Homo sapiens: one gene and its partners. The protein of the gene in region 1 interacts with the protein of each later gene in a biochemical or structural test. Each region holds a gene or a part of one and is shown in the gene's direction. Other genes may lie near its edges.

Evidence for each region.
Region 2: the proteins of OBI1 (region 1) and CNOT6 form a complex in vitro, tested with the Homo sapiens proteins (one study listed by BioGRID).
Region 3: the proteins of OBI1 (region 1) and CNOT2 form a complex in vitro, tested with the Homo sapiens proteins (one study listed by BioGRID).
Region 4: the proteins of OBI1 (region 1) and CNOT10 form a complex in vitro, tested with the Homo sapiens proteins (one study listed by BioGRID).

Annotation. Positions count from the first base shown.
Region 1 is NC_000013.11:78,635,143-78,642,170, reverse strand, and holds part of OBI1 (ORC ubiquitin ligase 1), read left to right. Parts: coding exon 1-49; intron 50-3,099; coding exon 3,100-3,348; intron 3,349-6,972; coding exon 6,973-7,028. UniProt on the Homo sapiens protein: E3 ubiquitin ligase essential for DNA replication origin activation during S phase.
Region 2 is NC_000005.10:180,560,357-180,567,384, forward strand, and holds part of CNOT6 (CCR4-NOT transcription complex subunit 6), read left to right. Parts: intron 1-4,132; coding exon 4,133-4,237; intron 4,238-4,318; coding exon 4,319-4,387; intron 4,388-5,463; coding exon 5,464-5,621; intron 5,622-6,731; coding exon 6,732-6,886; intron 6,887-7,028. UniProt on the Homo sapiens protein: Poly(A) nuclease with 3'-5' RNase activity.
Region 3 is NC_000012.12:70,337,418-70,344,445, forward strand, and holds part of CNOT2 (CCR4-NOT transcription complex subunit 2), read left to right. Parts: coding exon 1-96; intron 97-338; coding exon of another isoform or gene 339-368; exon of another isoform or gene 369-1,002; intron 1,003-1,025; coding exon 1,026-1,146; intron 1,147-1,248; coding exon 1,249-1,405; intron 1,406-4,689; coding exon 4,690-4,751; intron 4,752-4,840; coding exon 4,841-4,890; intron 4,891-6,693; coding exon of another isoform or gene 6,694-6,710; coding exon 6,711-6,811; intron 6,812-7,028. UniProt on the Homo sapiens protein: Component of the CCR4-NOT complex which is one of the major cellular mRNA deadenylases and is linked to various cellular processes including bulk mRNA degradation, miRNA-mediated repression, translational repression during translational initiation and general transcription regulation.
Region 4 is NC_000003.12:32,688,184-32,695,211, forward strand, and holds part of CNOT10 (CCR4-NOT transcription complex subunit 10), read left to right. Parts: intron 1-5,980; exon of another isoform or gene 5,981-6,057; intron 6,058-7,028. UniProt on the Homo sapiens protein: Component of the CCR4-NOT complex which is one of the major cellular mRNA deadenylases and is linked to various cellular processes including bulk mRNA degradation, miRNA-mediated repression, translational repression during translational initiation and general transcription regulation.

The DNA of each region.
Region 1 (7,028 bases):
GAAGCATCTTCGGAAAACTAGACTTGAATTACTACACAAAGAATATGAGGTAAACAGTAATCAAAGTTTAAAATTATGTTAGCAGTGAATTCAAGGTAAAAACTGACCTACCTCAGTCCCCAGACTTCTTAGAGTAAATATCCAATGAAATTTTATTTTAAAAGCCTATAAAAAGAAATTGTTTGATAAATTCTTTTTTCTTTTTTCCTTTCGTATTTTAAATAGAGGAAAGAGATTTTTTGTTTTATTTTTTTTCTTTAAGTACCAAGGAATGGGGGAATGGGATTCCAGAAAAAAGGAACAGATGGAAGCATTTCTTTCTTTTTTTTTTTTTTTTAAGTTAAAATTTGTACCTCCACAGACATATCATTTTGTATTTGCTTCCTCAAGAAGTTGGGAGAAAAAGGAAATCTCCTTGTGAAAGCCAGTCTGACCTCTGCAGTCATCAGTTGCTTCTGCCTATGAAGTTACTGATGATTATAAGCCTGATCAATTCTAGTAAAGTAAATACTATACCTTATGTCAACTGCCAGCACAGAGATTTTAGTGTGAAACATGCTGTTTCCTAATTATTGTCTAAAGGTGAATGAACAGGATGATTGGACATGGTGATGCTATTTTTACAAATAAATTCATGCTAATAGAATACATACACTTTTGAATAGTACACATTAAGCCCAGTTGTCATTTTATGTTGACTGAAGAAGGAGATATCGATCCCCTCTTGACTCAAAATATCTTTCAGTTTAACTGTGTACATGGAAGGTGCCTCAACTGCCTCAAAAATTTTTGGAATGCAGTGGGGTATAAATACATGATTGAATATATGTTTATTCATATATGTGTTCCTTACATATATGAATTTGCTTGTTTTATGAAAATGCTATTTAAGTTGAAATGTATTGCAATTTAAAATAGTAAGTAGTACTATCTGTGTGACATTTAATGCTAAAATGTATTTTTATATAATGAATATTTATCATACTCAGATGGTAAACAAATTAATCCTTTGGGAGATCACTTGAGCTACTTGGGGGTTTATTTTCTAGCAGAATTTTTAACAACCTCAATTTAAGGTGACATATTTATTATAGATGAATAAATGGCATCATAGTAAGAAGTTCTAACCCAAATGTTTAGTGACTGGTTTTAGGATAATAAACATTTCCAGAGTGGGAAGGCTAATACTTGCAATAGTCACAGTAGTAATTGAAGAACCAGAATCCAGAAAAGTTGAAAATTCAAAATTAACTACAGATATTATTCTGGAATGAAAAGTAGAAGGAAATGGTAGATGGTTTCACTCATACTTCAAATATAGAAGTGAAAGTATAAATATCAAAACCCTAACAATCCTCTTTTTCTTTTTTGAGACAGAATCTCATTCTGTCACCCAGGCTGGAGTGCAGATGGCATGATCTCGGCTCACTGCAACCTCCGCCTCCTGGGTTCAAGCAATTCTCCTGCCTCAGCCTCTCAAGTAGCTGGGACTGCCGGTGCCTGCCACCACACTCAGCTAATTTTTTGTATTTTTAGTAGAGGCGAGGTTTCATCATGTTGGCCAGGCTAGTCTTGAACTCCTGACCTCAGCTGGCCCACCTGCCTTGGCCTCCCGAAGTGCTGGGATTACAGGCACGATCATCTTGATAACTCTGTACAGTCAGCCCACCATATCCAAGGATTCATCATCTGTGGATTCAAACAACCAAGATTGAAAATTAAAAAAATAAATATATATAAAAATAATGTAGTTTAATAACTATTTGTATGACATTTACTTTGTATTGGTTATTATAAATAATCTAGAGATGACTTAAAATGTATGGAAAGATGTATGTAGGTTATATGCAAATACAGCACTAGTGATTTTCCATCAGGAACTTGAACATCCATGGATTTTGGTATCCCTAAGGGTCCTAGAACCAATCCCCTGTAGATGTGGGGATGAGGTGGGGACAAACTGTACCTTTTTTTTTTTTAACCCGGCCCCCCTCAATGTACTTTCAAATTCCCCTCAGTAAAGCAGTTGAGTATGCCTCAAGTTTTTTGTTTTTTTGTTCTTTTTTGAAATGGAATCTACTTCCCTGTTGGAATTCATGTGACTTTTCTTATTTTCTGGATGATATCTTTTTTTTGTTTGTTTGTTTTGTTTTGTTTTTGTTTTTGTTTTTGTTTTTAATTATACTTTAAGTTTTAGGGTACATGTGCACATTGTGCAGGTTAGTTACCTATGTATACATGTGCCATGCTGGTGCGCTGCACCCACTAACTCGTCATCTAGCATTAGGTATATCTCCCAGTGCTATCCCTCCCCCCTCCCCCCACCCCACAACAGTCCCCAGAGTGTGATATTCCCCTTCCTGTGTCCATGTGATCTCATTGTTCAATTCCCACCTATGAATGAGAATATGCGGTGTTTGGTTTTTTGTTCTTGCGATAGTTTACTGAGAATGTTGATTTCCAATTTCATCCATGTCCCTACAAAGGACATGAACTCATCATTTTTTATGGCTGCATAGTATTCCATGGTGTATATGTGCCACATTTTCTTAATCCAGTCTATCATTGTTGGACATTTGGGTTGGTTCCAAGTCTTTGCTATTGTGAATAATGCCGCAATAAACATACGTGTGCATGTGTCTTTATAGCAGCATGATTTATAGTCCTTTGGGTATATACCCAGTAATGGGATGGCTGGGTCAAATGGTATTCCTAGTTCTAGATCCCTGAGGAATCGCCACACTGACTTCCACGATGGTTGAACTAGTTTACAGTCCCACCAACAGTGTAAAAGTGTTCCTATTTCTCCACCTGGATGATATCTTAAATAGAATCAAAGATTTGGCATTTTTAAAAATCACAACTAACATTGAATTAAAATGAAGGCAACATAAATCCCAATTTTTATCAGTCAGGCCACATTTTGAGAATTTAAACTGTATGTGACTTTCTCCCTGCAAAACTCTTTTGATATGTAAAGAATCTATGTATCTACAGAATTTTAAGTACAAAATTCAAACCATGTTGGCTTCAGTTTAGCATATGTATGTATGTGTTTAGTGTCTATGCCTGCCTCATGACTATGCAATGCTTTTTCAGGACGAAATAGATTGTTTACAGAAAGAAGTAGAAGAGCTTAAGAGTAAAAATCTCAGCTTGGAGTCACAGATCAAAACTATTCTGGATCCTTTAACCTTGGTGCAGGGCAACCAAAATGAAGACAAACATCTAGTCACAGATAATCCAAGTAAAATTAACCCAGAAACTGTAGCAGAGTGGAAGAAAAAACTCAGAACAGCTAATGAAATCTATGAAAAAGTGAAAGATGATGTGGATAAGCTAAAGGAGGTAAGTTGTGGTTTTTAAAAATCTATTATGGTTGTTTTTAAAATAAGTACCTTCAAAAGCATAAATAGCCATATTATCTTGACTCATCATCAGATGATTTGTGAGGAAAGGACAGAATCTCTGGATGAGCATTTATATGCAATAAGAAGACTTTTTCTTATTTAAATATCATTAACTGCCAAGAAATATCAGGTGGTTCCATGTGTGACTATAATTAGAGACTGTTGTGCTTCTGTATAAGATTGCATCTTCTTCTAGAAGAATAATACCAATTTAAAGGATGTGTTTCTGTTTCGTCCTCTTTGTGGTTTGCCATAGGTTTTTTAAGCTTATATCAGCGACTTCCCCTGTGTACCTAAAAACAAACACATAACCATTTTCGCACCAATGAAAGGAAAAGTTTTGACCTTATCTTTTCTTTTGCTACCACTCTCTTATTTTTAAGATTGTAGATAGATAAAGACTTGGTGACTAATTCCAGGACAGCAATAAGCAGCTGCTTCAGAGTACCTCATGCAAAAGAATGTTGTGATTTATGAAACTGGTTCATTTTTTTCAGTTTTTCTTTGAACGAGATACAGCATGGTGAAAAAGGCAAACCTCTAGGATTTTTCGGCCTAGAAAGGGAGATAAGATCCATGCCATCAGCACTAGATGTTACAGGCAACTCCTACAACACCATCTTGACCCAAGTGATCAGCCTTTAGCTTGAGTTCAAGTTTATCCACAGTGGAGTCCTCTTGTGCTGAAAGGAGATGGCTTTGTAGTACTCAGTTCTACAATCACATATTCAACTATTTGCATTTCCTTAAAATACTATTCCTGTGTGAAATTACTAAATCTTATCTCTCAAAATTATTAATGAGCTCCATATGGTATTTTAAAGGAGTTCCCCTGTATATTGGCTCTCAGGTCCTCAGGTTAAGTAGCAGAGAAATACTTGCAACTTAGATGTAAGCCATCTTCCACATATAAAATAAATGTTGTTTGGGCTCAGAAAAGGCCAGGGTGAGGAGAAGAGAGAGCCTAGTGCTTTTAGATAAAAAAGAAACTACAGACATAATTGTACTGAGTTTGTTATAAGTGTGTAGGAGGGAGAAGTGCATAGTTTCTTTGGGTATTGATGACCAGTGTTAGTACCTTGATTTGTTAGAAGACAATAGGATACTAAAAGGAATGCCAACTCGGAAATTACAGTATTTATCAATTTGCCTTGTTCCCTTTAATTTCCCTGGTTCTTCTTGAGCCATTGGTAAGCACTATATGATCTCCTTTGTAGTTATTAAACTTCGTTTAAAGTTTTGGCAGTAAATATTTCTTAGAACATGAGGCTTATAAGGGTGATATGAGGGATGGATATTAAAGAAGAATACATAAAGCACAGTTAATTTTCCTTTGCTCTTTTAATGGTCAAATGTTAAATTCAATACTCAAAGCTACCCTGGGACTTCAGAATTCTTTGGGATATTGAATAAGCCCATTTTCTATGCCTAGTGATGCTAGTAGGTAATAGGTTATAAACTGGGACATAAGTGAATGAAAAAACATGGACTGCAGAGATAAAAACTAAAGTGTGGAGTAATAACATACTCAACATAATCAAATACAGGAATACAAAAGATTCAGAATAAAGGATTACTTAGCATGAATGAAGTGGACTTTTTTTCTGATGTTACCTGGAATGGGTGAGTTTTGAACCATCGTGAGGCCAGTGTCATTACCCAATCAGTGTTGAGAATGCAGAAGGGTTAGCTGAAATATTCATTATTCTTTTAGGTGCAAAAGGTAGGCAGAACTCTGCCCTTCATAACTTTTATTCACCTAACCTTCTTGAACTTGAAAAGATCTCTGATAGTTGAGGAACTAGCCAGCCTATAATGAGAAGTATTAGAGAGTCAAAGGACTGTTGAGAGACTGAAACATAGCCATACAGTAGTGGTGGGGGGCAGGGAAGGGGAAAGGAAATCAAATGAGTTTCTAATTTAAGCTTGTCATCATCATCAAAAAGCATTCACTAAATGCCTCCCCTTATGGTGCTGTGCTTGAGAGCTTAATTCATTGTCTGCATATATGAGGAAGTAAATGGCTTTCCTTATATCTTCAGAGAAGCAGTAATGGTGTTTATCAGTCACTTAAAGAATTAACTCTCCACAGTCCTGGTTGGTGTGCATTCATGAAGATAAGCAGGTGCCTAGAGCCCAGAGGGAACCTGGATGGGTCTAAGTCAGGGAGTTAGACTTTATGCCCCCAAATAATGTTCTCTACCTTATTTCTTCTGTGATCCTTGTGCTGCAGCTTATGTGGGTAAGTAAGTAATACAGTCAGAAGTTCTTGAAATTCATCTAAGTAATAGCCAAATTTTTGAAATACGTTTTAAAGGCTTCTTGGTTTAAACCTTTTTTGGTGACAGTTATTCTTGTGACCCATTCACTTTAAATGTAAATGTTCTGGTCAAAGAATTTCCCTTTCCCAGGTTAGTGAGGTTGGTTTCTAGTCTAGGGAGTGTTATTTTTCTTTGTAATACATAAAAGCAATGAGTAGGGAATTTAAAGGAAGTAGCTTCTAAGAAGACTCTAAAATTTAAGCACACTAGTTTTCAGTGTGTCCAGAATCAGTGTTGAGCCTCTAGATTTTCTAGCAATTGGTGTCCTGTTAGGTAATTTTTAGGTGTTATACAATTCAAGAAAGAAAATCATACTTGGAAGGATTTTTTTTTTAATCGAAGAACAATTCATAGAATTTATTAGAAAATACTGATCCAGGCCTGGCAAGTGGCTCATACCTGTAATCCTAACACTTTGTGAGGCTGGGGCAGGTGGATCACTTGAGGCCAAAAGTTCAAGACCAGCCTGGCCACTGTGGCAAAACCCTGTCTCTACTTAAAATACAAAAATTAGCTGGGCATGGTGGCACATGCCTGTAGTCCCAGCTCTTCGGGAGGCTGAGACAGGAGAATCACCTGAACCCTGGAGGTGGAGGTTGCAGTGAGCCAAGATCACACCACTACACTCCAGCCTGGGCAACTGAGCAAGACTCTTTCAAAAAATATAGATAAATAGATACATAGATAGATAGATAGATAGATCCAATTTTGAGGGCCCTAGAAGTTGTGAGCCAGAACGTTGGAAAAGCCTTTTTGAAGAGAAAAAATCAAGTGGTTAAATCATATTAGATTTGTTATCACTAGAAAAAAATTTTTAAACAGCACCCCAGAAATCAATTTCAAAGCTCAAGAATTAACTCTTCAGCATTAGTTTGCCGATATTGCATGTGGTATAATGTTACCTTGCCTAGAATATTCAGTTATGTGAAAAAGAAAAAAAATCACACATACATTTGCCATTAGTATGGTCCCTTAATGACTCTAAGCTAACTAACATAGTTTTGTTTATTTCCCTGGACAGGAGATTTGCAAAGTGCTTGGGGAATATGGTTTTAAAATGCTCAGTAGTATTCAGTTTCTGAAGTCATTCCCAGTAGTGATTTTAAGTTTCTGAAGGCCATGTTCTACTATTCAGTTTTCTGATATTATCACTCTAAAAAATACGGATGGCTCATGTTGTAATTTTTACAAGTCACTTTTATTGTAGCTTTTGCTTACTTATTTTCAATTTGTTATTTTAGGCAAATAAAAAATTGAAATTGGAAAATGGTGGTCTGGTGAGGGAGAATTTACGACT
Region 2 (7,028 bases), on another chromosome or scaffold:
ATTTCCTTTGTATTTAGAGAACTTTTTCTAGTGGTTCCCTTTGGGTAGATCTGCTGGCAGCAGATTCTGTTAGTTTTTTGTCCTCTGAGATTGTCTTTATTTCTCCTTCATTCCTGAAGGATGTTTTCACTGGATATAAGAATCTGGGTTTGACAGTTCTTTCGACACCTGAAAAATATTTTGCTGCTTCCTTCTGGCTTCCATGGCTTATCATGACAAATCTTTCGTCATTCCAATTTGTTTTTCTCCTGCAGGTAAGGTGTCATTTTTCTCCGGCTGCTTTCAAGATGTTTTTTCTTTGTCTTTAGTTTTCAGAAGTTTAATTATGATGTGTCTTGCTGTGGATTCCTTTGGGTTTTTCTTGTGTAGGGGTTCACTGTGCTTCTTGAATCTGTTGGTTTATATTTATTGCCATATTGTGAGAATCTTCAGCCATTATTGCTTTGAGTACTTTTTCAGCCCTGTCCTCCGTGTCCTCAGCGTCCAAGGCTCTGATGACATGAATGTTAGATCTTTTGTTATAGTCCCACAAGCCCCAGAGACTTTGTTCTTTTTGTTGTTGTTGGTGGTGGTGGTGGTGTTGGTCTGTGTTCTTATCTATCTATCAATCAATCAGTCAATCAAGAGACGAGGTCTCGGGCTGGAGTGCAGTGGCACGATCTTGGCTCACTGCAGCCTTGACCTCCCAGGCTCAAGCAGCTCTCCTACCTCAGCCTCCCAAGTAGCTGGGACCACAGGCATGTGCCACCATGCCTGGCTAGTTTTGTTTGTTTGTTTGTAGAGACGAGATTTTGCCATGTTAACAAAGCTGGTCTCGAACTCCTGGCCTCAAGTGATCCTCCTGCTTCAGCCTCCAAAGTGCTGGGATTATAGGCATGAGCCACTGTGCCTAGCCTTCATTTATTTTATTTTTCAGTTCTAATATTCCCATTTGGTTTTAAATGTTTTATTTGCCTGAACTTTGTTTCTTTGCTCAGTCTTCCTGTTTTCTTGTGTGTTTTGTGTGTGTGTGTGTGTGTGTGTGTGTGTGTGTGTGTTTTCAAGCATGTTTTTAATTTCTCATTGAAGCATTTTTGTCATGATTCCTTTGTCTTGGTTGGGTAATTCTGTTTCTGTCATCTCAGGGTTGGAAGTTGTGTTTATCTTTTTGCATTTGATATCTTCGTGTCTTGGTGTGATGAGCTATTTTCATTTGAAACTGGACTCACTCATGTTATGAAACTCTAGATCTTGTTTAAACCCTTTAGTTTGGTTTTCTTTGCCTAGCACTGCTGTGACAAGGGAACCAGGCACTGTCTCCTTACTGCCAGTGGAGGTAGAAGTTCAGGTTCCACTTGGCCTTCGCTGACACCTGGGAGTGGGGGCTCCTCGTTGCTTCTGGTGGAGGTGGTAGTTTTGGCTCTTCACGCGGCCTCCACAGGCACCGCACTGGCGTGTCCTCTTTATTGCAGGGAGATGGTGAAAGTCTTGACTCTCCTTGGCCTCCTCTGACACCACCTCAGAGGGAGGAAGGGAGCTCCATATCGCCTCCTTTCTTTCTCTTGCAGCAGAAGTCTACCAGCCTCTCCACTTGCTCATGCTGGCATGGGTAGAGATGGGACCACGTTTTTTTCTTTAGTGTTAAGCTTGAGTACAGTGGTTCTTATCTAAAACTTTTGTCCTTTTAGGCAGCCCTTCCCTGGTCCTTTGGCTTTTGTTGGGATTCTTTTGGGTCTGTACCCATTGGTATTTCCATGTTACTGGCTTCTTAGCTGCATGTCTGGCATATCTGAGGCAAAAAGTGAACCCAGGGAACTCATCCCTGTGCCGTTCGTCAGGTCCTGCAGTCTTTGGCTATTCTGCCTTCTCTCCTTTTTTCAGAGTTTTGTGTTTGCTTTACACATAATATACAGTGCTTTTAGTTGTACCTAGTGGGAAGAATAGGGAAAAGTGTTTTTACTCCATCTACCCTAAAGTAACTTCTCATTTACTTTTTTGTTCTTTCTCAGGACTCAGTATAGTTTTAATTCCAGAATTTTATTGTTATTGACTTTATTCATATATATTGTTTTCTGTTTCCAAGTAGTGAAGAGCAGATTAATTTTCAATTTAAAAGAAGTCCTGGCCGGGCGCGGTGGCTCACACCTGTAATCCCAGCACTTTGGGAGGCCGAGTCGGGTGGATCACGAGGTCAGGAGATTGAGACCATCTTGGCTAATGCGGTGAAACCCTGTCTCTACTAAAAATACAAAAAATTAGCCGGGCATGGTGGCAGCTGCCTGTAGTCCCAGCTACCTGGGAGGCTGAGGCAGGAGAATGGCGTGAACCCGGGAGGCGGAGCTTGCGGTGAGCCGAGATGGTGCCACTGCACTCCAGCCTGGGCAACAGAGCGAGACTCCATCTCAAAAAAAAAATAAGAAAAAGAAAACAGCATCACTGTAGGTCTGGTTAGAATGAGCTGTTTACCTGATACCGAGAAGTTTTCAGTTGACTTCATTTTCTCAAGATGTGTTTCACAAAGGGTCCTGATAAGCTTCAGGTTGTAACTGCTTATCTCACGGGATTGTGACTCAGTGAAAACATGAAAAGGCTGTGGTGGGTATAAAGAACCACACACACGTGAGAGAATGGTACTCTTGTAATTGCCTTCCTGCAAATACCTACTTTGCACTTAGAGCAGCACATTTTTCTTTTTATAATTCTTAGAATCCTAGAATCTTAAAACCGAAAGATCTTAAAGATAAATGAACTTTGCCATTTTTCCCATCCATGCAACTCAGCTTCTTTGAAGGATACTCCACTGCCTCACAGCACAGGGTGTCTCAAATAGTTAACAGTGTTTGCCAACCTCTTCTATTCGGCCTTGGCCTTTCCTGTTAAATTTTTTTTTTTTTTTTTGAGACAGAGTCTCGCTCTGTTGCCCAGGCTGGAGTGCAGTGGCGCGATCTTGGCTCACTGCAAGCTCTGCCTCCCAGGTTCACGCCATTCTCCTGCCTCAGCCTCCTGAGTAGCTGGACTACAGGCGCCCGCCACCACGCCTGGCTGTTTTTTTTTGTTTGTTTTTGCTTTTTTTTTCTTTTATATTTTTAGTAGAGACGAGGTTTCACCGTGTTAGCCAGGATGGTCTCGATCTCCTAACCTCGTGATCCGCCCGCCTCGGCCTCCCAAAGTGCTGGGATTACAGGCATGTCTTCCTTCTGCTCTTTGAGTCCAGTCTTTTATGAGAGAATAGGAAAAAACACTTCCTTTAGGTTTTGATCATTCTTATCTACCATATCCTTTAGTTTTTCTTCATTTGGTATGGTTAACATCTTTGACCATTTTATCTGCCTTCTTCAAACTGCAGAATTTGTCTGGTTTTCTTAAAATGGCGCTGTGGCATCCAGAATAATACACAATGCTTGTGTAGGATGGATAGGAACTTTGCTCCATGAAACCCTGCGCTGCACTGTTGTTATTTGTACTTTTATTTCTCATGTACATAAGAAACCCTTCTGAGAGGATTTGAGATTCTTGTAGGTATATGTAAATCATTGTTTTTGCTCTCATTTTGGAACAAAGCAGTTATTGAATTTACAGATGGCTCATGGCCCTGGGATTTTTTCCCCCTCCTTAGTGAGTTAATTCTTAAGCCAAGTCAGCCCCATTTTGTTGCTTTGTTCAGTATGACTTTAAAAAATCTAAGTGCAAGTGTATATTTGTCATTAGGGTGTTTTGTTGTTAGCTTTGTGACATTGTAGAGTTTTGATTCTCTGATGCATTACGCTGGCTTTCATCCTTCCCTTCACTGTTTCCTCTGCCCACCCACTCTCCCAGTCACCTGCCTGCCCCGTTCGTGTTTTGCTCACTCTTGTTTGTTATAACCATCTGTATTATTGAAAGTGTTGGCAAGGCAGGGTCAGATATAGAGCACTGCTAGTGCATTTCTGATTGACATCAGCCCATTAACATTATGTTTTGAATGTGTATATAGAACATGGTATGAATCATTTTTACTTATATCAGAAACTGAAAAAACAATATTTTCTATAGTCTGACATCTTACTAGTAACTATAACATAGTTATGGATGATCTGATAATTTTGATACATTTTAAAATTTTGAAACATTTTATTACTTAGTTTCATTTTACTTATTTCAAAAATATTTCCAGGAAATCCCCTTACCCAGGATATATTGAACCTTTATCAGGAACCAGATGGAACAAGACGGCTGCTGAACTATTTGCTTGATAATTTGTCAGGTACTGCAAAAAGAAGTAAGTGGTTATTTGTTTAAACCTTTTTATTAGGAAGACGTGTAAGAATATTGCTTAATTCTGTATTTTCTATTCAACTAGTTACAACAGAACAACCACCTCCAAGGTCTTGGATTATGTTACAAGAACCAGATAGGACAAGGCCAACTGGTTGGTAGTCTTTTATTTTTTAACTGTTATTTTTGCTCAGTCTCTATAAGCCTAACAGTATTGTCAGCATGCTTAGATTACAGGTAGCATTAAGACAAAATGTTTAAGGTTGGTTTGGTTTGGGAGGTAATAAAAAAGAATTCTTGCTCACATGACCTCTATGTATACTACATTGTGCTATATAGAAAGTGTGCTATAAAGCAGTGCTTCTCAAACGGGCAGTTTATCCCCCAGAGGACATTTGGCAATGTCTGGAGACAATTTTGATGGTCGTAACTGGGGAGAAGTGCTGCTGGCGTCTGGTGGATGGAGGCCAGGGTTGCTGCTCAGCATTCTATAGTACACGGCACAGGCCCCCACAACAGACTTCACCTGAAATGTCAGTAGTGCGACTCTGGTTGAGAAACCCTTCTGTAGTGTACTGATGAAATTCACTTAAAATGAATACACCCAAATTTTTCTCTATGAGAAGTTTCCAAATCCTAGCATGTTCCAAATGGATTTGACACTACCGAGTTATAAGAGAGCCAAACCCTTACTTAGAGGAAAGTGGAACTAATGACTGCTCATCTCCTTTTAACCTAAATTCTATGTAAATAGTTTGGGAGCTTTCATGGTGCGTGTAACAAAATTTGGTCTGTGATACCGTTTTCATTTTGCATGAATTAACAATAGTTGTGCTGTAGAAGAAAATGAGGCATGCCTATTAAGGATACTACCTATCCAGTTTCCACATCTTACATTAACAGTTGGTAGCATGGTAGAAGGAGTATAGAAATGAGGAATGTTAGGCTCAGAGACTGAAGGGCTCACGAGCTTAGACTTTTCACTTCCAGACCTTCTGTGCCTACCTCTGTAGCAGGTAGTACATTGTATTCTAACTTGTTCACTTATCTATCCTGCTTGCATTATCCGTCTTTTATTTATCCCCCATATGTGGCGTACAGTAGCTTTTCAGTGACTATAGATTGAATGAATACGGTCAAACTTAACATTTAAGTGAAAACCATTACTGAAATTAATTATATATTTTTTTCTGCCACATGTGTGAATAAGTAAAGTTATCTTTCCTACAGCCTTGTTTTCTGTCATGTGCTATAATGTTCTTTGTGATAAATATGCGACCCGGCAGTTATACGGCTACTGTCCATCATGGGCGCTAAACTGGGACTACAGGAAAAAGGCCATTATTCAAGAAATCTTGAGCTGCAATGCTGATATCGTAAGTCTTCAGGTAAGTCAGACAGAAGACAGTCAACCTAGCATTGATAAAGGAAGGAGCAACTAGGAATACATTACGCTGACACATTTGAAGTTTTAGCTTCAGTAGTTCTTAAAGTACTGCTTTTTTCTGTTATTAGTGAATCCTGGGAGTACTGCCTGCTTTGCTTTGCAGTGCTATGTTGCAAAATAGGCAAATGTGTTAAGCTGGGATTTATGCGTTTGCCATGACCGCTAAATACTCACCTTCCTCCTCCCTCCAGCGTCCCTGCACTATTTTTGAATTGGGTGGCAAAGTTACTGAAATTCTAGCGTGGTCAAGCTATAACTTGCATTGCCGACCATGTTGCTAGAACAATTAAGGCACCGTGTAAAAAGGACTGACTTGGTACACGAACATTTTGGGTTCTCAGTGCAACTCTCATAGTCACTCATATGATCTTGAACATGTTACTTTCTGCCCAAGGGTCTGAAGTTATGATTTGTAAAGTTCGTCGACCTCTGTGGTTCTTGTTCCACCTCAGTTCTAAGACATAAGGAAATACACATGCATAGAAGTGTGTCTTTCACTCACTGTTCTTAAACAACAATGAGTTGCCCTTGGTACCTAGTACCTGTAAAATGACAAGTCGCTGTTCCAGTTGGTTTCAGATAAATAGTGTTGAAAAGATGTTACTTTTTTTTTTTTTTTTTTTTTTTTTTTGGGTGGTGGGGAGACAGGCTCTTTCTCTGTCCCCCAGGCTGGAATGCAGTGGCATGATCTCAGCTCACTGCAACCTCCGCCTCCTGGGTTCAAGTGATTCTCAGCCTCCGTAGTAGCTGGGATTACAGGCATGCACCACCATGCCTGGCTAATTTTTGTATTTTTAGTAGAGATGGGGTTTCGCCATGTTGGCCAGGCTTGGTCTGGAACTCCTGGGCTCTAGTGATCCGCCCGCCTCGGCCTCTCAAAGTGCTGGGGTTACAGACATGAGCCACCATGCCCGGCCCGGAAAGATGTTACATTCTTTAATCTGCAGACCAGTCCTTTGAAATTATTTCAAGCTCTCAAACTATACATAGAAGTTAATATGCAGACTAATTTTTGTCTTATGAAATAACTGTGCTGTTTACAACTTTTCAGGAGGTTGAAACGGAACAGTATTACAGTTTTTTTCTGGTAGAGCTGAAAGAACGTGGCTATAATGGATTCTTCAGTCCTAAGTCTAGAGCTAGGACAATGTCAGAACAAGAAAGGAAACATGTTGATGGCTGTGCAATATTCTTCAAGACAGAAAAGTAAGTCATCTTATTTTTTAAAAAGAACGTTTTCTCAGTATTTGCAGGGTGGGGGCCAAGGGTGTGGAAACTAATTGGCAAATGAGAGAATGAGGCACTATATTATTACTGAAGCAAAGAATACTGTTTGACCTAGGGGGTT
Region 3 (7,028 bases), on another chromosome or scaffold:
CAATCCCAGGACTTCTCAATACACAATGAAGATTTTCCAGCATTACCAGGCTCCAGCTATAAAGATCCAACATCAAGTAATGATGACAGTAAATCTGTAAGTAACTGAGAAGTGTGTATGTGAGTGATGTAGTTTTTCCCTTCAGATTTCTCTTATATTAACAATTACTTACTAAATACTATTACAAAACTGTTTTATCTTGATATCTGTAATAACCTAACTTCTGAAGAATGTGGAAAAGCTTTATAACTTAGAAGATAGCCTATTTTTTTCCTATTTCATATAGGTTTGCAAATTTCTGTTGAACTTCTCAGAGTTAATTTAGACTTTTATTGTAGTCCCTGTCAGCTGGATCCCATGAAGTTTGATAATATAGCCTTCTAAGGAGCTGTGTTTTTCTTGAGTAAGTTTTCTCCTTGAAGAATTTATACACATTTTTATACCTGTGTTGATTCAACCAACTCAGCTTCTTCTTTCTGACTTAACAAATATGTTTATTTCTTCCACATTTCACTGAAAATAGCTTTTCTCTGTGTGTGATGGGAGTTTATATATTATTAAAATAATTGATAAAGAAGATCGGTAAGAATTAAAATAAGTACAAAGTTTTAAAGCTTGTATGTCTAACTTATCTTCAAGGTAGCTTTGGTGATTTTAGGTAATATACTATATTTAGTTTCTCTTTTACATGAAAGCATTGAGGAGTGTAACTTCAAGTGTATCCCAAAGCATAAAGACCTGAGAAAGAGATAGATTTTTTTTTTTCTGTGACTGAAGATCTGAGATAAATAAGATATTTTCCCTTGATTTCTTTTTCTTTAAATACTCAAATGTGGATGATATAGGATTTATTTGTATACCATGGAACAATGATGGAAACAATTTTCTATAGAACTTGAAAAACAGGTAATAATTTAACTACCAATTTAAATGTAATAAAGAATAAATAGCAAGGTATTAATATGTGAACTTGAATTTGTATACTTAACAAATTTTAATGTCACATTTAATTTTTTTCATGCTAGAATTTGAATACATCTGGCAAGACAACTTCAAGTACAGATGGACCCAAATTCCCTGGAGATAAAAGTTCAACAACACAAAATAATAACCAGCAGAAAAAAGGGATCCAGGTGTTACCTGATGGTGGGACTCTAGAAATCTATGTCAAAGATATTATAGAATGCTTTTTTTTCTATTTTTTAACTTTTTCTTGAAAATAAAAGCAACTGTGTTTTTCCTACCCAGGTCGGGTTACTAACATTCCTCAAGGGATGGTGACGGACCAATTTGGAATGATTGGCCTGTTAACATTTATCAGGGCAGCAGAGACAGACCCAGGAATGGTACATCTTGCATTAGGAAGTGACTTAACAACATTAGGCCTCAATCTGAACTCTCCTGAGTAAGTTTTTTCTGTTTTTCCATGTCTGTATATAATACCTCTTCAGACTTCCAGTTTTTAATATCATGTCATCAAATTATCTCACCTACTGCTACTCATTGTTAACCTGCTGATTCTCTGGGTCATTCCCATTCATGTTAGCTCTTAGATCACTGTCACTCTGCAGTATTCCTTTTATAATTTGGCATTTTATGTGTGTGTGTGTGTGTGTGTGTGTGTGTGTGTGTGCATGTGCATGTATATATGTGTGTGTGTATATATATATATATACACACACACACACACACACACCTTCCAGAATCCTGAAATCTCAGCTCCTTGAATTTCTTTCCTCCAGGAATTTTTGTCCTGTAGTATACTTCAGCCACTCCTTTAGTTATCCCTTTGACCTAGTCATTGTTCGTAACTGCAGTCTCTCAATTTTAAAATCTGAGCTCGCATGCTTTCCGACTTCCACTTTCTATTTTCTATTTCTCTTCTTCTAGTACTGTGATTCCTGTAATCATTTCACTCCATTGGGACCTTCAATCTATTGATTCTTCGGTATTTTAACTGTTCTTCCAGATCCCCGTCTCTTTTCCCCTGTGATCAACTCCCTTCTTACCCATGAAATTCTGTGGTCAGTCATAATTGTTCATTTACATATCCCATGACTACTTGCCATTTTCTCATGTTGTTATACTTGCATGGCCAAAGCTACAGTACTGATTGTTTCTGCCTATTTCATTCCTGACCTGTGCTACTGAGCTCTGCTAGAGAAAAACACATGATATCACTGCCTGGTCTTCCTTTATTTTCATGCCCAGGAGCCTCAAAAGTAGGCTCTTAATTCTACCAGTGATAATTATACCTTGCATGCTTAGTCCATTTACTCTTTTGCTCTCTTATGCAACTATCGTACACTTCTGCATGCCCCTAATACCTTTTCTCCTTATTCTTACTATCAAATGATGATCTTGCTTTTCACTTTTACTGTACTAAGAAAGATGGAAGCAATTAGAAGAGCACATTTAGCACAGTCTAGCCAACAAATCTGACTACCTACAGCCACCTACACCTATGTTATTCTTGTTTTCCACCCTATTACCATAATTGACCCATGCGTTCTACTTACAACACATTTTCACACTTTGTTGGGTCATTTTCATCAACATAGAAATACATTGTTACTTCTCTCATCTTAGAAGAAAATCTTCCTTTGATCCAACCTCCTCCGTAAGTTACTTTCCCATTTCTTTATTTCCCTTTGAAGCGAAACTTTTCAAAGAGTCATCTCCATTTCTCCGACTTGGTCTTCTCCCATTCTCTGGTAAGCCCATTTCAGTCAGGATTTTGTCCCTGCCACTTCACTAAAGCTGCTTTTATCAAGGTCACCAAATGACCTTCATGTTATTAAATTCAGTGGTCACTTGGAGGAACTCTTGCTCCTTGATACACATTCTTGTACTTGAATTTGAGAGCACCATTTTTACCTCATCTTCACTGGTTGGTCTTTTTCAGTTTCCTTTGCTGGTACCTCCTCCTTTTCTTCTTGACCTCAGTGTCATTCCTCTTCTCTGCATTTACATCCTTGATGATCTTTTTCTAGTCTTATTGTTTTAAATACCATATATATTGAGGAATCCCAAACATATGTTTCCATTCCACACTTCTGAGTTTGAGATTTCTACATTCAATTGCCAATTAAATATTTCTTGAATGATCACCCCCCAACTTATTCTGTCTACAGCCTTTCCAATCTCAGTTAGTGGTAACTCTGTACTTCCAGAAACTTGGCATTATTCTTAACTCCTCTTTCTTTTATACCCCATAATCAGGCTTTTCCCAAAATATATACAGAATCTAACCAAAGCTCACTACTTTTAACTGCTACCACCCTTGTTTGAATCATTCTCTCTTGCCTGAATACTCCATTAGCCAGTCACTGGGGGTCCCTGATTGTCCTTATACCCCTTCCCGTACAATCTCTTCATATAACAGCCAAGACAATCCTTTTTTAATACATTACTCCTCTGCTCAACACCCAGTAAATGTTTGTGGTTTCATTATGATTAAAAACCCCAAATCTTTTTTTTTTTTTTTTTTTTTTTGAGACAGAGTATTGCTCTTGTCGCCCAGGCTGGAGTGCAGTGATGCAATCTCGGGTCATTACAACCTCCACCTCCCAGGTCCAAGCGATTCTCCTGAGTAGCTGGGATTGCAGGCATGTGCCACCATGCCCAGCTAATTTTTGTATTTTTAGTAGAGACGGGATTTCACCATGTTGGCCAGGCTGGTCTCTTAACTCCTCACTTTTCAAGTGGTCTGCCCACCTTGGCCTTCCAGAGTATTGGAATTATAGGTGTGAGCCACCGCGCTTGACCAGAAACCCCAAATCTTCACAGGCCTGCAAGGTCTTACATGATTATTGTTTGTCCCCTAACCCCACCTCAACAGCTTTTCCCTTTGTTCACTGTATTCCAGCTTCACTGGCCACCTTGTTATATCTCAGGCATGTCAGTCATGTCCCTGCCTTAGTTGCTCTAGGAGTTCCCTCAGACTAGAAGAGTCTTCTGCCAGATAATTAATATGACTATGTCCCTTATAGCCTTCAAATCTTCAGATCTGACCACCTTAATGAAACCTAACTGACCACCCTATTTAATAATTATGCATCCAGTCTCCCCTCCCAGTTCCCCTCTAACATGGGCCATTGTTTATTTATTTATTCTGTTAATTGATTTTGTCTGTCCCCCTCCAATCCACCATCCTCAACCAGAAAGTAAGTTTCATGTTGTCAGTGATCTTGTTTTGCTCACTGATGTGTCGTAAGCTCCTAGAACAGTGCCAGGCATATAATAGGCACTCAGTAAATATTTGATGAATTTAAACTTTTGCAAATAGTTACTCAGTTTTCTTCTTGCCACACAAATAAATGGGAAATTTATTTAAAATTTATTTAAAATTTAATTTATATTGGGAGCATGGTATTGAAGAATTTAAAGCATCTTGAGTTGAAATCAAGTAAAAGTAGAAAATTTTTAATCATGTTTTGTATATTGTGATATGTTGTGTTATTTATACTGTATTGCAAGAATACTGAGGGAAGGAGTCCTATCATATTTTACAGACACACACACAAACACACACAGTCTTCATTTGCTTCTGTATAAGTCAGTAAACCCAAGTAAGGGAATTAGAAGTAAAGATGGTCATTTTACAGTTGGAGTCTTTGTTTTTCCTGAAATAAAATTAGAAATCTCTTTTTCTGGATTTCAAAATGTTTTCTTTTCCTCCTTATTCAGAAATCTCTACCCCAAATTTGCGTCACCCTGGGCATCTTCACCTTGTCGACCTCAAGACATAGGTAGGAGAATCTATTTGTGTTTAGACCTTTTAAAAAGAAATTTACAATTGAGAATCAGTTAATAAGGCTTTTTTCATTTTATTATCCAGACTTCCATGTTCCATCTGAGTACTTAACGAACATTCACATTAGGGATAAGGTGAGTGTAGTTTATTATTCTACTCAGTCAGCATGAATTTATCTATTTTTCACATGTTTTTCAGTTCAGGCAGCATACTATTTTTGAAATAATTAGTAATGGTCTCAGGGATATGCTTTCATATGTCCATGTTAACTTGTTAAATGGTAAATGTTAGGACTGGTAAAAAATAAAAATTCTTACATTTAACAACAGGTTACAACCATAACCGCAGTTGATGAGAATAAACTAGATTGGAACATTTGATAAATATCCTTCTGATAATCTTATTTTATGACCTTACCAGTAAAAAGATTTTCGTTACAAGTATTACAGATACAGTGTTTTTAATGAGATGGTCTGTATCTTTAAAAACTATTTATGACCTTTGACTTTTCTCTGTATTTTTTCATTTCCATTTTTTTAAATCACCTAAAATTCTAATTCTAAAGTAGTTATTAACAACAGATTACAGCTTAATCTCTCTTTTTTCAATCTAAGAAAGAAAATGGTGGCACTTTTTGCTTTAGAAGAACTGAGAGTTTGTTTCTATTACCAAAAAATATTCACAATGGTACCTAAATTTTAGCCTTGGGAAACTACAATTTAGTGAAAAAATATATTTTTGTTATATATTTGTGTATAAATATCTATGTGTATGTGTATATATACAACAGCATTCTGAGTGTGCCTTACAGTTCTGTGGTCAAGTGGATGTTGATGTGGACAGGCAAGTAAAGGGATACCTTTCTCAATGTCTTCTAATACTTGAGTAGATAAAAGGCAAGAAATACAAGATGGAGAGGTCTCCTATTTTCTATTTGCGGATTGTGTGATTTGCTCCCACCACCACTGTAGAGCTCTTTCGCTCCAATTACCAAAGTGTTCCAGAACCTTTTCTTATTACCAATTTGAGAAATACTAATTTAGGAGAATTTGTCACATTGGGGCTGCTGCCTGAATAGGGATAACATGAATGGAGAGAAAAATTACATTCAGAGAATGTGTAATAACCAAATAAGTATTTCGATATAGGATCAAATAACGAGATAAAAATGTTGTTTTGGGACACTTTTAAGGTTTATTTAAATGTGAAAATTTGAGACTATTGAACCTATGTTTTACAGTTTGGTAAGCAGTTATGTTTCTACCTTGGGGAGAGAAATGTAAAGCAATCATCTTTCAGACATCTATTTAAACAAACTGAAAAGCCATTTCTTTATGATTTTTGTATTCATCATCTGTGATTTGCTGAAAGCATACAACTGACTTGTGAATCATTCACTGTCAGATATAGATTCAGTTTAACATTTTTTATAAGCCGTCTATATATTTGGCACTCTACAAGGTGCTTTCATATACCTTCACTCATTTTATTTACTTTCTTAGTAACCCTCATAGGTGTCATTGTCCACATTTGACAAGTAAAGCTAAGAGATTTTAAATAACTAGGACACAGTCATATTAATGAGTAATAAAACCAGGACTTGAATACAAGTCCTAGATCTCTGAGCACAATGCTATTGTTAGGTTCTTTTCCCCATTGGGTATTAAATCCTTTTAGTGGATCTTGCTTGGAAGTCTTTATTGAGCTTTTCTTCCAGTCAGCATATCAATTAGATGTATCAGAAATAATTGTTTAAATGACTTCAGTCATTTAAATGAGGAAATTCCCTTTTAGAATCTTAACTACCTATCTGTGTAATCATGTAATAACAGTTATCTACTACAAAGTGGGGAGTTTCTGTTTATCTCTCCATTTTTTCTTTAGTAGTAGCAACTATATATTAGGATTTGCAGATTTGTTTTATATTTCAGAATAAGTTATTTTTCTTTTTCAGCTGGCTGCAATAAAACTTGGCCGATATGGTGAAGACCTTCTCTTCTATCTCTATTACATGAATGGAGGAGACGTATTACAACTTTTAGCTGCAGTGGAGCTGTATGTTCAAAGTATTTTAATCACTTTTGTATTATAGTGGATCTTGACTATGCTGAAAACATCTTTAAGTGATGATGGCTATCTTTAAATGGAACTATTTCTCCATCAAGAAATTTATTTTTACATTATTAAAGTGAATTTAATTTAGATTAAAACCGTATCTTAACCATGGCTTCATAATCTATATACCTAAAAAGAATTTCAAACTTAATGCTGA
Region 4 (7,028 bases), on another chromosome or scaffold:
GTACTACTTTAGGAACTGGGCAGGAACAAAACAAAGTCTCTGTTCTGGAGCTTATTTACTATGAAGGACAGATAAGCATGTAAATAAAATGAAAAATAAGATGATTTCAAGTTGTGATAGATACTCTGAAGAAGGCCAAGTGCAGTGGCTCACACCTGTAATCCCAGCATTTTGGGAGGCTGAGGGGGGTGGATCACCTGAGGTCAGGAGTTCAAAACCAGCCTGACCAACATGGTGAAACCCCATCTACTAAAAATACAAAAATTAGCCAGGCATGCTGGCGCACACCTGTAATCCCAGCTAGCTGGGAGGCTGAGGCAGGAGAATTGCTTGAACCTGGGAGGCAGAGGTTGCAGCAACCCGAGATCGCACCACTGCACTCCAGGCTGGGTGACAGAGTGAGATTCCATCTCAAAAAAAAAAATAATACTCAGAAGAAAAAAATGAGTAAGAGAGGCTGTCTGCAGTTGCTCACACCTGTAATCCTAGCACTTTGGGTGGCTGAAGTGGGAGGATTGCCTGAGGCCAGGAGTTTGAGACCAGCCTGGGCAGCATAAGTGAAACCCTGACTCTAAAAAATAAAAAGCCAGATATCATGGTGTGTGCCTATAGTCTCAGCTCCTAGGGAGGCTGAGGTGGGAGGATTGCTTGTACCTAGGAGTTCAAGGCTGCAGTGAGCTTTGATCACGCCACTGTCCAGGCAACAGGATGAGACCCTCTCTCAAAAAAATAAAATAAAAGGCCGGACGTGGTGGCTCACGCCTGTAATCCCAGCACTTTGGGAGGCCGAGGTGGCAGATCACGAGGTCAAGAGATCGAGACCATCCTGGCTAACACAGTGATACCCCGTCTCTACTAAAAATACAAAAAAATTAGCAGGGCCTGCTGGCGGGTGCCTGTGGCTCCCACCTGTAATCCCAGGACTTTGGGAGGCCGAGGTGAGTGGATCACCTGAGGACAGGAGTTTGAGACCAGGCTGGCCAACATGTTGAAACCCTGTCTTGACTAAAAATACAAAAATTAGCTGGTCGTGGTGGCAGACGCCTGTATTCCCAGCTACTCGGGAGGCTGAAGCAAGAGAATCACTTGAACCCAGGTGGCAGAGGTTGCAGTGAGCCAAGATCGTGCCATTGCCCTCCAGCCTGGGCAACAAGAGCAAAACACCATCTCAAAAAAAAAAAAAAAGAAAAAGAAAAAAAAGAATAGAGGATGACTGAAAGCCTTGTTTTTCAGATAGATTAGAGAAGGGCTTTCTTAGAGTTGACATTTAGACAGAAACCCTAAGGATAAAGAGCCAGCTGTGTTGGGAAGAATGATCCAGGTAAGAGGAGCAACAAATATGCAAATGTACAGAACCCTTGCTTGGAAAATGTCTAAAGAACATCAAGCAGACCCCTTGAATACAAGCTCCCCGAAGATAGAGACTTTTGTCTGTGTTAGTTGTGTTCTAGCTCTAGTCCCTAGAACAATATCTGACAAGAGACACTCAACACATAATTTAAGGCTGGGCATAGATGCTCACACCTGTGGGAGGCTGAGGTGGGAGAATCGCTTGAGGCCAGGAGTTCAAGACCAGCCTAGGCGACATAGCCAGACTTGTCTCCGTAAAAAATAAAAAAAAATTAGCTAGGCATGGTGGCGTGACCCTGAAGTCCTAGCTACTCCAGAGTCTGAGATGAGAGGATGGCTTGAGCCCAGGAGTTGAAGGTTGCAGTGAGCTATAATTGTGCCACTGTACTGTAGCCTGGGTGACAGTGCGACCCTGTCTCAAACAGAAAACAAAAAAGCCAATACACATAATTTATAGCATAGGGAGCAAAGGCAGCATGGCAAGAGATAAAGTCACAGTTGTATCAGGAGTTGGTGTATGTTGGGCGTTACAGGCCATGGAGGGAGTTTGAATTCATTTTAACTAATGGGAAGAGAGTGGAAGTTTTCAATAAGGGCATGATGGTGTGATCTGATTTATATTTAACTGATCCAGGTAAGGAATGATAAGAGTAGGGGCTTTGAAATCAGATAGTTTAGGTTCATCCTAGCTGTACTACTTGGTATTTGTGGGAAATTGGGCAAATTTCAAGAAGTCTTTTTTTTAAGCTTCAGCTTTCCTGCGTGTAGAATGAGAACGATGAAAGTATCTACCTCACAGGTATGGTAACAGGTTAAATGATATAATCTCAGGCTCTGAGTTTTTTGGTTTTTTTGTTTTGTTTTGTTTTGAGACAGGGTCTCACTCTTTCACCCATGTTGGTGTGCAGTGGCACCATCATAGCTCACTGCAGCCATGAACTCCTGGGCTTAAGCAATCCTCTTGCCTTAGCCTCTTGAGTAGTTAGGACTACGGGTGTGTACTACTGTATCCAGATAATTTTTTTTTTTTTGAGACAGAGTCTCGCTCTGTTGCCCAGGCTGGAGTGCAGTGGTGCGATCTTGGCTCACTGCAAGCTCCGCCTCCCGGGTTCACACCATTCTCCTGCCTCAGCCTCCCAAGTGGCTAGGACTACAGGTGCATGCCACCATGCCCGGCTAGTTTTTTTGTATTTTTAGTAGAGAAGGGGTTTCACCATGTTGGCCAGGCTGGTCTCTAACTCCTGACCTCATGATCCGCCCGCCTCGGCCTCCCAAAGTGCTGGGATTACAGGCATGAGCCACCGCGCCCAGACTTATTTGGTATTTTTTCAACTTTTTATTATGAATGATTTCAAACACCTAAAAAATTTAAAAAATAAAATGAATATCTATATATCTACCCCCTAGTTCATTCAGCAATTGTTATATTTTACCATATTTGCTTCCTCTATCACTAGCTATGACTTTTTTTTTTTTTTTTGAGATGGAGTCTCACTCTGTTGCCCAGGCTGGACTGCAGTGGTACGATCTTTGCTCATTGCAACCTCCATCTCCCGAGTTCAAGCGATTCTCTTGCCTCAGCCTCCCGAGTAGCTGGGCTTGCAGGCACACGCTACCACAGCCAGCTTTTTTTTTTTTTTTTTTTTGAGATGGAATCTCACTCTGTTGCCCAGGCTGGAGTGCAGTGGTGCAATCTCGGCTCAGTGCAACCTCTGTCTCCTGGGTTCAAGTGATTCTCCTGCCTCAGCCTCCTGTGTAGCTGGGACTACAGGTGTGTGCCACCATGCCTGGCTAATTTTTTGTATTTTTAGTAGAGACGGGGTTTCACTGTGTTAGCCAGGATGGTCTCGATCTTCTGACCTCATGATCCACCCACCTCGACCTCCCAAAGTGCTGGGATTAACAGACGTGAGCCACTGTGCCTGGCCATGCCCAGCTAACTTTTGTATTTTTAGTAGAGACGTGGTTTGACCATGTTGGCCCGGCTGGTCTTGAACTCCTGAGCTTAAGTGATCTGCCCGCCTCGGCCTCCCAAAGTGCCGATGTGAGCCAACACACCTGGCTCTAGCTATGACTTTTAATGTTGAATCATTTCAAAATAGGTTATAAACATCATAACACTTCATCTCTAAATATTTCAACATGCGTTTCTTAAAAATAGGGACATTCACCTATGTAACCATGATGCCATTGTCATAGTTTAGACAATTCATGTTTTAATATATTAAAAATTTCCTGCCAGCCAGGCATGGCGCCTCACGCCTGTAATCCCAGCACTTTGGGAGTCTGAGGTGGGAGGATCAGTTGAGTTCAGGAGTTAGAGACCAGCGTAGGTAACATGGTGAAACCCTGTCTCTACCAAAAATGTAAAAAATTAGTGGTGGCGCATGCCTGTAGTCCCACCTACAAGGGAGGGTGAGGTGGGAGGATCATTTGAGCCTGGGAGGCAGAGGTTGCAGTGAGCCAAGATAAACACCACTGCACTCCAACCTGGGTGACTGAGTGAGACCCTGTCACCAAAAAAAAAAAAAAAAAGCCAATTTCCCGCCAGGCATGGTGGTTCATACCTATAAATCCTAGCACTTTGGGAGGCCGAGGTGGGTGGATTGCTTGAACCTAGGAGTTCAAGTCCAGCCTGGGCACCATGGTAAAACCCTGTCTCTACAAAAAATACAGAAAGTTAGCTGGGTGTGGTGGCATGTGCCTGTAGTCCCAGCTATGGCTATATTTTAAAAATTTATTTGTAGGCACAGGGTCCCAATATATTGCCCAGGCTGGTCTCAAACTCTTGGGCTGAAGGAATCCTCCCAGCTTGGTCTCTCAAAGTGCTGGGATTACAGGTGTAAGCCACTGCACCCAGCTTTATCTCCTGTATTTTCTTAAACTCTAACTTATTTCTACAGGCTTGATTAGATATAGGTTCAACATATTTTTGAGAAACTTTGTAGGTGATGTTATATACTTTATTTTCTGTATAAAGTACATAATGTCAGGTTATCCAGTATTAGTGATGCTAAATTTGATCAATTTGAGGTGCTGACAGGAACATCTTTTTCCATTTTCAGTTAGAGGTAATTTATGGAGTAATTGGCATTTCGTAAATATCCACTGTTGTTGATTCTTTCCTCAATCAGTTGTATTATTGAGGGTTACAAAATGATTTTTACCTAGTTCTATTGTAGTTTCTACCTTTGTTAGTGAATATTCTTCTTTAAAGAGTAGCTCTCCTGGGCTGGGTACAGTGACTCATGCCTGTAATCCCAGCACTTTGGGAGGCCAAGGTAGGCAGATCGCTTGAGCCCAGGAGTTCAAGAGCAGCCTGGGCAACATGAGAGCCTGTCTCTACGAAAAGATTGAAAAAACTTAGTTGGTGTGCTGCTGCGTGCCTGTAGTCCCAGCTACTTGGGAGGCTGAGGTAGGAGGTCACTGGAGCCCAGGAAGTCGAAGCTACAGTGAGCCGTGATCACAGCACCGCACTCTAGCCTGGGCTACAAAGTGAGACCCTGTCTCAGAAACAACAACAAAAAAGAATAGCTTTCCCATATTGACTGTTAGTCTTCCCAGAAAGCCATGTTAAATGCTAAAAGCTTAATTCATTATTTTCAATTACCAGTTTTCAGAACAAGGAGTTGATGTGGTAGTGACCTATGTTTGATATTTAAAGTGGTTTTTTTTCTTTTTTAAATTTAATTAATTTTTTTGAGGCAGGCTTTCACTCTGTTGCCCAGGCTGGAGTACAGGGGCATGATCTTGGCTCACCGCAGCCTCGACCTCCCGGATTCAAGTGATCCTCCCACCCCAACCTCCCAAGTAGCTGGGACTACAAGTACATGCCACCACACCTGGCCAGTTTTTCTGTTTTTCTGTAGAGACAGGGTTTTGCCATGTATCCCGGGCTGGTCTCAAACTCCTGGACTCAAGCAAGCCTCCTGCCTTGACTGCCCAAATTGCTGGGATTACAGGCGTGAGTAAGTGTTTTTAATATTAGAATTTAGAGTAATATATTGGTCTTTTTTTTTTTTTTTCCAGACAGGGTCTCACTCTGTCACCCAGGCTGGAGTGCAGTGGCATGAACACTGCTCACTGCATCCTTGACTTCCCAGGCTCAAGCGATCCTCCCACCTCAGCCTCCCAAGTAGCTGGGACTATAGGCATGCGCCACCACGCCTGGCTAACTTTTGTATTTTTTGTAGAGATGAGGTTTCGTCATGTTGCCCAGGCTAGTCTTGAACTCTTGAGCTCAAGCCATCCTCCCACCTTGACCTCCCAAAGTGCTGGGATTACAGGTGTGAGCCACCATGCCCGGCACTTATATTAGTCTTATGATTTCAATTTAAAATGTATAATTGACTGAATATTGATTTATACTTGTGAATTTAAATTGAAACCTTATTGCAGTTATTTTATTTTGTGGACATTAGAGAGTACCTAAGAGTCACTATAAGTTTAATTTTTTAGGTATGTAAGTTATTCTCAGGAAATTTTTTTTTCTTGACACATGTTAAAATACAAAAATTTTGTCTTTTTAAGTCTAGCAATTATACTTAAAATTGAATATATTGTTGGGGTTTGGTGGGGGGGTTGCAATAGTTCTCACTTGATAAATTTTTTTTTTTTTTAATTTAAAAAAAGTGTTTGGTACTCTACACTTTCAGAGAAACTTCTCCAGTAACAAACTGTAGAAATGATCCCTGAAAGTGTAGTCTTGGTAAAATTTTTTAAGTAGTTAACATTTTATGTTTGAAGATGTTATGTTGAAGGTGAACTTTGAAATGAGTTTAGACATTCATCACAGGCCTTTAAAATTAGACCTCCAAGTAGAATAAGTTGTCTAAGTTCGGTGTAAAAATTTGAGTAAAATCTAGGCTTTTTGAATTTGTAACTTTAATAAATTAAGTATTAATATTTTAAAACTAGAGTAAATCTCAGTCTTTTCTATGCATAAAAACTCCTCCTCTTAGATGTGAAAACAAAATACTCATCAGCAGTGGCAATATTCTGCTTTGCCTAGCTTCCTTAAAGCATGCTGATATTGTTTTTTCTTCTTTCAGTTTTTTGTTTGTTTGTTTGTTTTTTGAGGCAGTCTTGCTCTGTTGCCTAGGCTGGAGTGCAGTGGCATGATCTCGGGTCACTGCAATCTCTGCTTCCTGGGTTCAAGTGATTCTCCCGCCTCAGCCTCCTGAGTAGCTGGGATTATAGGTGCGCACCACCACGCCCAGCTAATTTTTGTATTTTTAGTAGAGATGGGGGTTTCACCATGTTGGTCGGAATGCTCTCAAACTCCCCACCTCGTGATCTGCCTGCCTTGGCCTCCCAAAGAGCTGAGATTATAGGTGTGAGTCACCGCGCCCAGCCTAACTTTTATATTTTTAGTAGAGATGGGATTTCACCATGTTGGCCAGGCTGGTCTCAAACTCCTGACCCCAGGTGATCCTCCTGCCCTGGCCTCCCAAAGTGCTGGGATTACAAGCCTGAGCCACCGTGCTGGCCATGCTGATATTATTGATTTGAATTTCTGTTCCTTTATTTCTACACTACTGGGCAGGATGCTCAATTCTGTAACATTGCTTGTTACAAATGGCTTATTCTTTGGGCTGCGAAGTGTGTGCTTTCCCATTTCTCCAGCTCCTCTTGTCCAGTGGAGGGAATATGGTTTAGTGAATAAACCATTTGAGGTT